Regions from separate parts of the Homo sapiens genome. Here region 2 is reported to be linked to region 1. Evidence: microRNA targets listed by miRTarBase, many of them from high-throughput screens and not tested one by one. Region 1 holds a microRNA gene; the other region holds the end of a gene's coding sequence.
The links. Region 1 holds the annotated microRNA hsa-miR-148b-3p (UCAGUGCAUCACAGAACUUUGU, at 4,648-4,669, opposite strand). A microRNA usually pairs through its seed, bases 2 to 8, with sites in the 3' UTR of a target mRNA and lowers its output. Matches are read on the target gene's strand: a 7mer-m8 pairs with bases 2 to 8, a 7mer-A1 pairs with bases 2 to 7 and ends in A, and an 8mer does both.

Region 1 (7,118 bases):
TACAGTGAGGCTCTGCAGCTGTCTGCAATCTAGACCTCTCCTAAAACCATTCTCATCAAGTGTTTCCTAGGAGCTACCCCATGTCAGGAAGCAGTGCCAGAGAACACAAAAAACACTAGAAGCACAGAACACTTCCATAGACCCTCACTCACTGTATGAAGCTGAGGAATGGGGAAAGGCTACAAAAACCTCCTCCAAAGAAAGGCAAACCCTGCCCTATGATCTATCTTAGCTTTCTTTTCTGCAAGCTGAAAGAAGCATCCAGCATACCACTGAGCCCATTCCCAGGCTCTCCCTGGCAAAGGGGGCGGAGATGCAGGCTGCTAAATCGCTAGCTCTTTAGGGGCTAATCCGTCGCAGTCAGCTGAAGACCCATGACAGGTCTGGCATTTAGTAACTGGATAACTGTTTCAAAAGGTGTCCTGCATAGTTACATCCAATTACAGGGAGGAACAGCTGGTGAATTCTAAACTAATCTCTACCTGCTGATTGATTTATGCTACGCTCGCCCGGAGTTAATACACCAGGGACAGAAGAAATTTCTACAGGAGGGGGAGAATATGGAGGGAGAGAGGGTGTCCTTTCTTCTTTCTTCCAACAGATCTAAAGTTGGAAACATCACTCTGGGAAAGTCAGGAGGTAACAAGCTTGATGGTGACTATAAACCTAGGAATGGAAACCTGGAACTGCAAGACAATTCTCTGGAAAAACCCAGGCAGGGTGACATGGTATGAGGGAAGGGGACAGGAATGATGGACATGGGCGGACTGCCTCTTAGCATCTACATACTGCTTTGTTAGGAACCAAAGTTTCAAAGCTTTTCCCTGATCTGATGCTGACAACAAAGGAGGTCAAAGTCTGAGGACAGCAAGCAGGGCAGCAGTACAACTAAGGGACAAAAGAAAACAGGTTTTATCTGGAGTAGGCAAGATAAGATGGAAGAATTCAGGCCGGGTGTGGTGGCTCACACCTGTAATCCCAACACTTTGGGAGGCCAAGGCGGGCGAATCATGAGGTCAGGAGTTTGAGACCAGTCTGGCCAACCTGCTGAAACCCTGTCTCTACTAAAGATACAAAAAATTAGCCGGGGGTGGTAGCGCGTGCCTGTAATCCCAGCTACTTGGGAGGCTGAGGCTGCAGTGAGCCAAGGTCACGCCATTGCACTCCAGCCTGGGTGATAAGAGCGAAACTCCATCTCAAAAAAAAAAGATGGAAGTATTCTCAAAATTATACTACTGAGGAACATAAGTTAATAAGGTATCAGTCCCAAGATTCAAATCTCAGAATAAACCTTTGTGCTGTTCCTAAACTAATTCGAAAGGGAATCTCACCTTGGCAAAAAGTCGATCTCCATCATTGTCCAGAATCAGGATGGCTTTGACAGTATACAGGGAAGGTTCCTGAAGAGATACGAACATACCTTCAGTCCTGAAGCCTCCCATCACCACTGGTAAACCAGATACCTTCCCCTAGTCCCACTGGGGCTGCAAGGGGATACAGAGGTACCTCTGTAAGTCCCTTACCTCAACTTGGTCAGATTTTGATATTTCCCATTGAGAAAGACCCAGGGTAAGTAAACTGAATTGACAGAGAAAGCATTTAAACAAAGGATTCCAAAGTACCATCAGAGAAACAGTTTCTCTGACTCACAGGGGGCTTAATCAAGAGAGGTCATGCTGTTATTTCCAAATATTATGGTACAGTTATTTTCCAAATTACCCTCTCCCTTCCTGCTCTCCCATGTACAGGTGGCTATAGAATGTGACCAGATTAATTAAAAGGCACTGAACAAAGCCATTTGAAAATAGGGTTGAATGTCCTAGTATACTTGGAAGTTTCTGCAGTCCGAATGCAGTAGCAATGCAGAAGCATAAAGCAAGCCTTCCCTAAACCACCCACACACTAAGCAGAGGGAAAAGAGCGTTTACACACACACACACACACACACACACACACACACACACACGCACAGGCACACCAGTTCTCAATGCAGCCTAGTAAAACAGCCATCTTCAAAAACTCTCCTATGTTCTCCAATTCTTCCACTATACCTTAACCACTACCACTTAACTTCCAAGGACAAAAGCCAACCTGAATTTTGGGGGAGTTAAGAAGCAGTGAGAAGATGATCTATCTGAGAAACACTCTGGGGCCTAGAGTGAGTGAGCAAGAGGGTAATTTTTTTTCCACTACCAAGAATCAAATAAGGAATCACGGCCTCAGTCTTAATGGTTCTTCTTCAACTGTAAGTATATCACTTGCAAAACCTGTGGTGGTCTGTTGCTCTCCTCTACCACTGCAACTTCAAGGGAGCCAGCTAACTAGGAGAAGGAAAATCGCAGGAGGCTGAGGCAGGAGGATTGCTTAAGGCCAGTTCAAGACCAGCCTGGGAAACACAGGGAGACCCCCCATCTCTACAAAAATAAAAAAAATTAGCCAGGTGTGGTGGCGTGCATCTATAGTCCTAGCTACTCAGGAGGCTGAGGTGATAGGATCTCTTGAGCCCAGGAGTTTAAGACCACGCTGAGCTAGGACTGCGCCACTGCACTCCAGGCTGGGTGACAGAGTGAAACCCCATCTCTAATTGATTGAATAGAAAAAACCAAAAGTGTGGAGAGATAGTGATGTGTGCATGAAAGGTATTTGCAGCCTCACATTCCTTGACTTTCTTTTTTTTTTTTTTTTTTTTAAGAGAAAAGGTGTCACTGTATTGTTCAGGCTGGTCTTGAACTCCTAGGCTCAAACAATCCTCCCACCTAGGCCTCCCAAAGTGCAAGTGTGAGCCACTGCGCCCGACCTACATTCCTTGACTTTCTAATCAACATTACTTACCATTGATATCCCTTGTGCTGAGACAAGGCTGTTGCTTTGCTACCTCTTTCCTGGCCTTATTTAAGAAACCCACAGTCCTCACAGGAGCCAAACACAAAAGTATGTGTTTGACAGATATCCAAGAGTGAGGAGGAAAAAATCATTGCCAAGAACCCAGAAACTGCAGCCTCTACAAACATAAATTGCCTCATGAGGCTTCAGGAGGTTTATGGTTCCATGCAAAGAATCAACCCTGTTTGCGGGGGCAGAGGAGGGCAGTTCAGAATGGAAGTAAAAGGAACCCAGTCTTTTGACAACAAGGTGATGAGGAACATAAGCTTTCCCTACTTGAATTCTTGAGGACTGCAATTTTTGTTTTGTTCGCTGGTTTGTCCCATTTGTCCAGAACAATGCCTGACACATACTAAACTCTCAATATTTGGTGAATAATTCAGAGAATAAAGGAAGTTTGAGAATAAAGTTAAAATACCTTGACGCAGTATGCATCTAAGGGACTACTTATAATTAGACCTCCACATATAAGTGGATTTTCTGATGTGGCCACTTTGGGTGATATTACTACCAACTTTATCCCTCCTCTGATAAACACTCCTTAGAGATGTCCATCCTGTATATATAACACTCTGGAATAAACAAGGCATGAGTAACTCCTCTCTCAAACTAAAGAACTTTGTTGCCTAGTGGAGGGAAGTCCTCTAGAGTCTAGTCTTAAAAGGTCACAAGTAGAAGCAGCTCTCCTAACTCCTAATTCCTCACAGAAAGATCTTCCTGTAAAGCAGGCTCAGTTCTATAACAACTTGGGTCCTCAATTCCAAAAGGGAGACAACAATGGGAATGAGTTTTCTTAATGGAAGAAAAGAAGTCCAAAAGGAACAAAATTTAGACGAAATCATTTTTTCCCACAACCTTTTCCTGGAAATCTTTGGCTCTGTTCCTCTATCCACATTCACAGCAACTTTAGAGAGCTGCCCATTAGTTTAAGCTGGGCATTAACCTGGCATAGGAAACTGGTTCTTGCAGCCATAGAGTTTGGCATCCCTAGAACCCAAAGAAAAGCAAAGCCCTAATGGCCCCCAGCCAACTGGGAGAGTCAGACAATGTCCTTTGTGGCCAACAGGGTGTGAGTGCCTACAACAGCCACACCGGCAAAGAGAGAACATATCCCTGGGTTCTGCTCTTGGTTCTTTTCACTGGCTTCCTAGAAGACATTATCAAAGAAACCCCAAAAATAGAAACATTGGATCTTCCTGGGAAGAATAAAAGACAGGCTAAGGAGGACAAGGATAAAGACTAGATTTGACATAGAGCTTACTGGAGCTCTCAAAAGGGAAAGAAGGCATTACAGAAAAGGCTGGTCATTTCAAACTTCCAAAGGAGGAAGCATACTAAATAAAGCTGAGAATTTAGGCAGGCGCTTAAATGCCGCTTCAATTCTCCATTCTGCTACAGCTGGAGCCAGCAGCTTCTTTACTTCTCCTGCCACCTCCTGACTGCAGCTGGTTCCACTTCAGCCTGGGGCTTTTACCTCTCAGGAGTGGGGAGGGCTATGCCATAAAACTAGCCAGTTTAAAGGCCCCAGAAGTCATTACTGATAATGTAATTTCATTTTAAGTTTTTGCAAAGGGCAAGTTTATAAATAACTCCCAGCTACTGAGAAATGGGCTTCCAGGACAATGGACTAGGCTTGACCTTGTAACACATTAAATGCTGACTGTTGAGAAAGACCTTATCAGCTTAGGGCCACACTGAAAGAATTTAAAAGGTCTATTCTTCCCTCCCACTCCCAAAATGGGTAGCTGCTAGAAAGCTTTCGAGACAAAGTTCTGTGATGCACTGACTTTCAGAGAGCCACAGCCTGAGTGTATAACAGAACTTCACCTCAAATGCTAATCGTGCTTGGAAATGATGTATAGGCAGATTGTTTTGTGGGAGATTGGGTGACTTAGACAGATTTTCATGTATTTATGTTTTTATTATCAAGAAAACAAGAATGCTGTCCTCAAGACAGGTGAAACACCACAGAACAAGCAACTAGGCTGCTGCAAATGAATCTTTGATCTCAGGGGCTTCTTTTTTTTTTTTTTTTTTTTTTTTTGCGACAGTCTCTCTCTGTCACCCAGGCTGGAGTGCAGTGGAGCAAACTCCGCTCACTACAACCTCCACCTCCCGGATTCAAGTGATTCTTGTGCCTCAGCCTCCCGGGTAGCTGGGACTACAGGCACACACCCCCATGCCCAGCTAATTTTTGTATTTTTAGTAGAGACGGGGTTTCACCAAATTGGCCAGGCTGGTCTCGAACTCCTGACCTCATGATCTGCCTGCCTCGGCCTCCCAAAGTGCTGGGATTACAGGCGTGAGCCACCGTGCCCGGCCTCAATCAGGGGCTTCTAAAGCCTGGTGAAAAGCATCAACATCTCCAAGAACTCTCTCCCCTAGCGCATAGAGGACTAGAGGGAAAGAGTCATTCCTAGTGCTGCCCCCTGTGGGCCTTCTCGGTGACCTGCAGCTTCCACAGGATTACAGTCATAAGCAAAAATATTTTTCAAAGGCAGCTCTGGATAAGAGCTTTTTTTTTTTTGAGACGGAGTCTCGCTCTGTCGCCCAGGCTGGAGTGCAGTGGCACGATCTCAGCTCACTGCAAGCTCCGCCTCCTGGTTCAAGCTCTCCTGCTTCAGCCTCCCGAGTAGCTGGGACTACACGCACCTGCCACCATGCCCGGCTAATTTTTTGTATTTTTAGTAGGGATGGGGTTTCACTGTAGCCAGGATGGTCTCAATCTCCTGACCTCGTGATCCGCCCGCCTCGGCCTCCCAAAGTGCTGGGATTACAGGCGTGAGCCACCGCACCCGGCAAAAGCTCTCTATTTGTGTGTCTTGTAGGACAAACTAGTAGAGATGGGCCCTGAAAAATAAGTGAATTAAGTCTGTTCACAATGTATATAGTAAGAGAACTCTTTGGGGTAAGATCTTAGTAAGCCACCAGAAGACTGGGAGAATATGTTTGGGGAAGGTAGAGAGGATACTTGGAAACTATAATGAATTATTTGATTCATTTAGGGGAAAAAACCAAGAAGCCTCTATGGAGGGAATTACAGGATGCCATCTACAGAGCTGAAAGAGCACAAATAAGAATATGGAGGCCAGGCGCAGTGGCTCATGCCTGTAATCCTAGCACTTTTGGAAGCTGAGGCAGGAGATCACTAGAGCCAGGAGTTCAAGACCAACCTGGGCAACACAGTGAGACCCTGTCTCTGCAAGAACTTAAAAAAAACAAAAATTAGCCAGGCATGGTGGCATGCACCTGTAGTCTCAGCTACTCAGGAAGCTGAGGCAGGAGGATCGCTTGAGCTTGGGAGTTCAAGGCTGTAGTGAGCTACAATTGCGCTACTGCACTCCAGCCTACACAAAAGAGTGAGACCGCCTCAAAAAAAAAAAGAAGCTGACTGAGATCACTAAAAAGTTCTTCATTGTCTACTTAAAAATAAATCCTTCCAGCCTGGCCAACATGGTGAAACCCTGTCTCTACCAAAATTACAAAACTTAGCCAGGCATGGTAGCAGACGCCTGTAATCCCAGCTACTCAGGAGGCTGAGGCAGGAGAATCGCTTATACCTGGGAGGCAGAGGTTGCGGTGAGCTGAGATCGCACCACTGCACTCCAGCCTGGGCGACAGAGCAAGACTTCAGATCAAAAAAAAAAAAAACATTCCCTAAGGCCATACCAAAAGGGCCTGATGTGGCATTACCCTGATGTGGCAATGGGTCTTGGTGAATTAAAAACTGTAACAAGATTCTCTTGTCTCAATCCTGTTTATAAAGTAAAACTAAGAAGGTAAAAACTAGAAGGAGAAATTCCTAGATACCACTCCCAGCTCCAAATGGCTAAGTAGGTATACTTCCTGACTCTGTGCCAACACTTTTTTTTTTTTTTTTTTGACAGAGTTTCACTTTGTTTCACTTTGTTGTCCAGGCTGGGGTGCAGTGGCACAATCTTGGCTCACTGCAACCTCCGCCTCCTGGGTTCCAGCAATTCTCGTGTCTCAGCCTCCTCAGTAGCTGGGATTACAGGTGACTGCCACCATGCCCAGCTGATTTTTTTTATTTTAGTAGAGATGGAGTTTCACCATCTTGCCCAGGCTGGTCCTGAACTCCTGAACTCAGGCAATCTGCCTGTCTCGGCCTCCCAACATGCTAATATTACAGGTGTGAGCCACTGCACCTGGCCTCTGTGCCAACTTTTATTTATTTTTTTATTTTTTTGAGACGGAGTCTCACCCTGTCGCCCAGG
Region 2 (7,118 bases), not on the chromosome of region 1:
ATACGTATTAAATATATTATTCTCTAATCCCAGAATATCAAGTATAGAAATGAAATTTATGATGTCTTTTCTCACTTGATTTATAATACCCAAATTAAATATGGTGGTTTTATGAAAGTTGATAGTTTTCCTATTTAAAAATATTGACTGTTACAAAATCCCATTTAAAAAATTTGATTTCATACAGAATGGGAAAGAGAAGAACTTGATAAAAAGCAAAAAGAAAAGGCATCTTTACTGGAAAGAGAAGAAAAGCCAGAGTGGGAAACTGGAAGGTACCAACTAGGAATGTATCCAATTCAGAATATGGATAAATTGCAAGGAGAGGAAGAAGAAAGACTGAAGAGAGAAATGCTACTTGCTAAACTGAATGAAATTGACAGAGAACTCCAAGATTCTCGAAATCTAAAATACCCTGTTTTGCCATTGTTACCTGATTTTGAATCAAAACTACACTCCCCAGAGAGAAGCCCCAAAACATACAGGTTCTCTGAATCCTCAGAGAGATTATTTAATGGGCATCATTTGCAAGACATCAGTTTCTCAACTCCAAAAGGAGAAGGTCAGAATTCAGGAAATGTTAGAAGTCCAGCCTCCCCTAATGAGTTCGCATTTGGTAGCTACGTGCCTTCGTTTGCAAAAACATCAGAGAGGTCAAATCCATTTAGTCAAAAAAGTAGTTTTTTGGATTTCCAAAGAAACAGTATGGAAAAACTTAGTAAAGATGGTGTAGATTTAATTACAAGAAAAGAGAAAAAAGCTAATTTGATGGAACAGTTATTTGGTGCCAGTGGTAGCAGCACCATTTCCTCCAAAAGCAGTGACCCAAATTCTGTGGCTTCCAGTAAAGGAGACATTGACCCTCTAAATTTTCTCCCTGGGAATAAAGGCAGCAGAGATCAAGAACATGATGAAGATGAAGGCTTTTTCCTCAGTGAAGGAAGAAGTTTTAATCCAAATAGGCACCGATTAAAACATGCAGACGATAAACCAGCAGTAAAAGCAGCTGATTCTGTAGAAGATGAAATTGAAGAAGTAGCACTGAGATGACTGACTAGAGTATACATTTTTTCTAATTGTAAATATTGAAATATTTTAATACAGTATTTATTATAAACATTTAGACTTTTTAATGCTAAAATGTCCTTATTAAGGAATGATTTTTAATAGCTAAATACAATGCAGTTAAAAAGAAGTAGATCATACATACACCACATAGATAGTTTGCCAAGAATGAAGGAGGCTTTTTTGAATGAAACCAAAAATAAAAATATGTCTTGAAAAATGAAATAGATTTTAACTCTTCATCCAGTGCTATGGCAAGTTTAACTGCACTGGAGGTGGTATTCCTTTTCTACTTTTATTCCTATTTATGTATTTATTTTTAATCATATTCTCACTGTGCTAAATACAGTCTTCCCACTAATTGTTGAATGAAAATTAAGGGTGAAAGTCTGTGTTGGGAAGTGTAGCTCCGGATGGTGGAGAACCAGTGCTTCTTAGGAGCCCTTCCCTTTATGGATAGGGCCAGGGGTCCCTATCTTACGTGGCAGTCCTAAGCTACTCTTGAGTGATAGCAGTCACAACATTGGGATTTCCCATTCCTCTGAAAGTACCCACAGCTAAACACTACTCATTTCCCAATTTCAGTATTTACTGAAATCACTTACCTACAATTCTGTTAGAATATTATGTTGAGTTCGGAAGACATTTCTCTGTTTGCAAGGACAGTTAGTTGCTCTCTGTCATAGCCCGCAGAAGCTTGGCTACAGTGTAATTCCTCTCCTTGTTCTCCTACACTCTTTGTATCTCAGTGACTGGGTGTAAGATTTCATGCCAAATGCAAGGAATAGTGGAAATACATACCAACTGCAAAGAATAGAAAAACTTTATCCCAATATATTATAGAAAGATCTTCAGTTCAATTATGTCCAGAGTAATATAATTTGGCAATGTTAATGCTTTTAAGATTTGAACTTGTCCTCAAACCAAGGAGACAACAATAGTGTAATACTATTGGACTTACAGGATTAGTTTTAAAGCAACTTTGAATAGAAGTGTTTCAGACATAGGACTTCTGCCTTGTTGACTAGAGTGGATAGTTTTCTGTTTAAATGCATTGGTCTTTTGGCTGTTTGTAATTCACTTCAGCTTATAGAGAAGTTGATGACCTTGGATCATGCTGGGTATGATTGGTCTTTAAAAAGCAGTAATATACCACCAGCCCAAGGAGAAAACATTGTTAAAATGAAGAGTGGTGGAAATAGTGTGTTGGGAAGAATAAAAAATTTAGATTGGCACTTATTCTAAAGTGAGCTGTTTTTTTCAAGAATTTACTAGCATTTGCTCGTAGTATGATTTCTGACGCCAGTCATATATACTGATGAGGGGAAGGAGTTACTGTGTTATTCTGAGTTCTTATAAATGCATATTATTGAATTTCATTGCATGACTATTTGTCAAGACTTACCTGGTTAGGTCTCCAATTAAAAGATGTACCACCTGTCATCTTCTAAATTGTGTTCCTTTCATTTATTGGGAACAGAATCTCTCAAAAGTGCTAAACTATATTAAAAAGTTTTCTTAATAGATTTGTATGTCTGATATGTATAACCATTTACTATAATATGTTGCAAATCATTCTAATATATGTAAAACAATATTATTTGTAATGCAGTTATTGGTAAAATATTATGTAATGTTAATTTTGTTCCTAGCTGCTAATTTTTCTGCCAAAAGTATTCTAATTTTCAGGTTGTTTTAAAGGCTTTTAAAACTTTTTAGTTAAGTTTTTTATTCACGTCATTTAAATTAGTTTTTTGCTTTTTTTCTACCTGATAATCTCTTTAACAAGATGCAACAAGACAGAATTATTAAAATTAAACCTAAAGTTAAGTTACAGATTTAAAGGCATTATGATATTAAGCATTAAAATTGGAGATTAAAATGTACAAAACAGGGTTTTCCTTATGAACAAACCTTACAGGGTAAATTGTTTTTTTTTCTAAATGTCATTAAATTTATTTGTACTCAGAACTGTTACTAATAAAAATTAAAAATGCACTATGACTCTTTATTTAAGTGATACCTGAGGCTACTTAGAAAATATGTAATAGAAACAGGCCCTGCAGGGTTAATTTTTGTTTCATTATACCTTTTTTTATGTTGAGTATTTTTAGTTGAAGTAGATGAATTTTCTCTAAATCAGGTTAGACAGTACGCTAGTCTTATCAGATAATTATAGTTTTAATTAATCCTTTCACCCTTAATGGCTATCGTAATGGCACATATTGCTCATAATTTTTTTTTTTAAAAAAAGATGAGGGTAAAGAGGATTAAATTGAATTGTGAAATAAACACAAATTTATTCCATGGCTGACTTGCCATTTTTCTGATTATCCTCTTCCACCTCATTTTCTGAGATACTCGGCTTCTGGTATCCCCGACTAGTTGTTAGTTGGATAGAGCATGTAAATCTGCCTGATGAAAAGGGGAAGGGAAATTTGTATTATGGGATAATACGGATTTTTTTAGGATTAAAGAAGTTACCATAAATTGCAACGAATCTGCCTTAAAAAGTTTTTCCCCTTCTACACAAAACTTTCTTATGTTAAAGTCTCCTTTTATATCACTTGAAATTGCTCTCCTTTTATTTAGGAGTTTTTTGTTTGTTTGTTTCTTTTGTTTTTTGGGTGTTGTTTTTTTTTTTTTTTTTTTTTTTTTGTTTTTGAGACAGTCTCACTCCGTCGCCCAGGCTGGAGTGCAGTGGCGCAATCTTGGCTCACTGCAACCTCTGCCTCCCAGGTTCAAGCGAGTCTATTCAGGAGAATTTTAAAAAATTAACCACTAGTACTTTCTGGATGCCCTAGACTGTGTTAGATGGCAGGAGAGCGTGGAGAGTAAACCAGACAGGCCCCTGTCTTCACAAAGTGGATGAAGAGCACAGTGAGCCAGACTGCATGAGGTTCCATCCCTGCCCTCCCACTGTTCCCTGTGTGTCCTTGGACCACAGCTTGCTCAGCTGTTATTGGTCTTTAATAGTACTTCTTATGGTGGTTATGAGTAAATGAAATACTTAGGTTTATGCTTGGCAGGTGCCTGGCACATTATAAGCACTCGGTAAACATTAGCTGCTATTACCATGGCTAACTATGAGTTTCTTGTAGGGAAAAAAGAATGAACAAATAGAATACAGGTATGAATGTGTAATACATTAATGCTATACTTTGCACAAGACATAAGCAGAAAAAGCTTTTAAACCTCCAAATTATCTTAAAACCTCTGTACTAAATACATTATGTCTTTTTTATCTGCACTTAGAACTCTCCTTACTTTATTCAGTATTAAATTTGGGAGGGGAACAACACACACGGGCCTGTTGAGGGGTCGGGGATGAGGAGAAGGAGCTTAGAAGATAAGTCAGTAGGTGGGTGCAGCAAACCACCATAACACACATATACCTATGTAACAAATCTTCACATTCTTCACATGTATCCTGGAACTTAAAAGTAATAATAAATCAATAAATTTGCAGTAAGAATGATGAGTTTGTTTCCTAACCCACAGAAGAGTAAAAAAACTAAACTTTGAAAGGATTTTCTAAAGACGGGTTCAGTGACATAAGAAGGAGAGGGGAGTTAACAGCTTCACAGCAAAGAGAGAACAAAATCCAGAAACTTTCAAACCCACGGAACTTTTGGGTTGCATAATGTGATAGGTAATTCATACCTCAGCTGTCCCTTAATGTCTGTGTGTATCCTTGGATAAGTGACAACACCTCTCTGCACCTTTGTTTTCTTCTTTATAAAACAGGGCTAATTAGAGTGCCTACCTCACAGTAATCTAACCTAATTAACTCGAAATTAATACAAGAAAAACTGCTTAGAACCAGAAGCACTCGGACGTTAGCTGCTATTGTTGTTTTGGAAAGACAATAATTGTGGAGAGCAATTATTTTTGCTGAATGCCAGACATGGCAGTTGGCATTTTTATGTGCTTTATTCCTCACAAAGTTTTTCCAAATAAGTACTGTTATTCCCATTTTCAGTTACAGCTAATAGATTGTGATATATGTTATAGGTTACCCATGAGATTACACAGGTAGTAGATTACATTCAGTAGCCTCAATATGAGAAATCTAAAGAAATATTTTAGAAAGAGTTTTGTTTTAGTACTTTTTTTTTTTTTTGAGATGAAATCTCGCTCTTGTCCCCCAGGCTGGCGTGTGATGGCACGGTCTCGGCTCACTGCAACCTCTGCCTCCCGGGTTCGAGCGATTGTCCTGCCTCAGCCTCCCAAGTAGCTAGGATTACAGGCACCTGCCACCACGCCCAGCTAATTTTTTTGTGTGTTTTTAGTAGAGACAGGGTTTCACCATGTTGGCCAGGCTGGTCTCCGTCTCCTGACCTCAGGTGATCCACCTGCCTCGGCCTCCCAAAGTACTGGGATTACAGGCATGAGCCACTGTGCCCAGCCTAGACTCTTTAAGTGGTAACAGAAACCCAAATCAAACAAGCTTAAGCAAAATAAGGAAATTACTTTTGTCTCAAAACCAGAAAGCTTAATAATGTGTGGTTGGATCTGGAGGTTCGAATAATAGTACTTACTTTGTCCACTGCTGGGTCTCATTTTCAGAGAAACTTTACATTTGATAATATTGCAGTTGTTACAGTTGGTAGCCTTGAACCCACATCATTCCTTCATCTGGCATGCCCCTTCTCCCACCCCCTGCAAAAAGAAAGTCTAGTCTGGCAGAAGTCTGATTGGCCCAAGGAATGCTGTGTGCTCAGCATTAAGGTTGGTGGTCTTGTGCAGGGAAAGGATGGATCCCTACTCTTACCTACTTCATGGAATGAACAGGATTTTTGTGGAATGGAGGAGGCATGTTTCCCCTGATGAAGGAATTTTTGACATACAAAAAATATTCTTTTTTTATTAAAAATTTTAATCAAAAAATAATATGGAATAAAAATAATAGGGAATAAACATTAAAAGTTGGTTACTTGTTCAGCACTCCTTATTCCCAGGAACGAGGCATTTCTCTAATAAGATATGATGGGGTTGCACTGTGAAGTTCATTGATTATTAAAGGGTGAACGATTTATCAGCTACAGTAGGTAAGATGGATATGACATCTACATTTTAGAATTCATAGAAAGACTTAGAGACCCAAATATGTATTTTCCATACTAAATGCTACATTTTTGAGATACATATCCATATATAAGTGATTATATTCTATCTACCTCATCTAAGACAAAATAAAAATTAGAACTCAGCAGCCAGAGTAGAATAGTAAAAACACTGACTTTGGAGTCAGAAGTTGGGTTGGAGTGTTTGCCAATTGCTAATTACAACTTTTGTCAAATAATTAACTTTTCTTAACATCTTCCAGAAGTGAAATAGAGCTGATCCTATCTTACAAGATTATTGTGAAGATTAAATGACATCGTGTATTTTTGAGAGAAGAGAATAAGTAACATGATGAAGCATGTCATTAGAGGGAGATCATTATCTATTTAGCATTAATTTCTGTATCAACACCCAAAACTTTTTTTTAAAACAACAGAAGCTTGTCAGTATGGAATCTTAAAAACTACACGTGTTATCTTACCTCATAATCTACTGTCTTTGACTGAAGTGGGACTCTTCTTTACAGATCCATACGGAGGTATTCCATAGAGATGCTTTGCTGCTTTTGTGGACAAGCAGCCTGTGGCAGATGCAGTTTTACACACATAGTTTTGCTTCACCAGCCATTTCCATGAAGGGTAACAGATACAAATCAGGAACCCAGACTGTGTTCTGAAAGCAGAGCATTAGAATTCAGGATGGTCTCCCTGCCAGTAGAACTACGGGGATTCCTTAACTACCATGGCCAATGGTGACTGTCTTTCTTCTCTCTTTAACTGACCTGAATACCAAATTTCAAATTTCTGGTCCCAGTTGATATTGATCCTGGTTATGCATACTTTTTGTGTAGTCTGTAACAGGACATTATAGATGTCAGATTTTTTTTTTAACCCTGATACAAAGAACCCAAGAGTTTTTTATATAGGCAATCACAGCTACTGAAAACTAAGTACACCTAGAAAAAAAGGTTTATTTAAGGCTTTGTT

Region 2: the mRNA of LCA5 is a reported target of hsa-miR-148b-3p. Seed matches in the 3' UTR shown: 7mer-m8 at 1,331-1,337.

The regions. Positions count from the first base shown.
Region 1 is chr12:54,334,829-54,341,946 of GRCh38, reverse strand. MIR148B (microRNA 148b) reads right to left here and starts at 4,731; the gene lies at 4,633-4,731. COPZ1 (coat protein complex I subunit zeta 1) reads right to left here. Exons shown (of 9, transcript NM_016057.3): 2 at 1,332-1,400.
Region 2 is chr6:79,480,936-79,488,053 of GRCh38, reverse strand. It overlaps LCA5 (lebercilin LCA5), which reads left to right. Exons shown (of 8, transcript NM_001122769.3): 8 at 188-3,063. The coding sequence ends at 1,050. LOC100506851 (a long non-coding RNA gene) reads right to left here. Exons shown (of 7, transcript XR_001744215.3): 7 at 3,685-6,804. Among named protein-coding and RNA genes, the nearest start is that of LCA5, 53 kb to the left of the region's middle.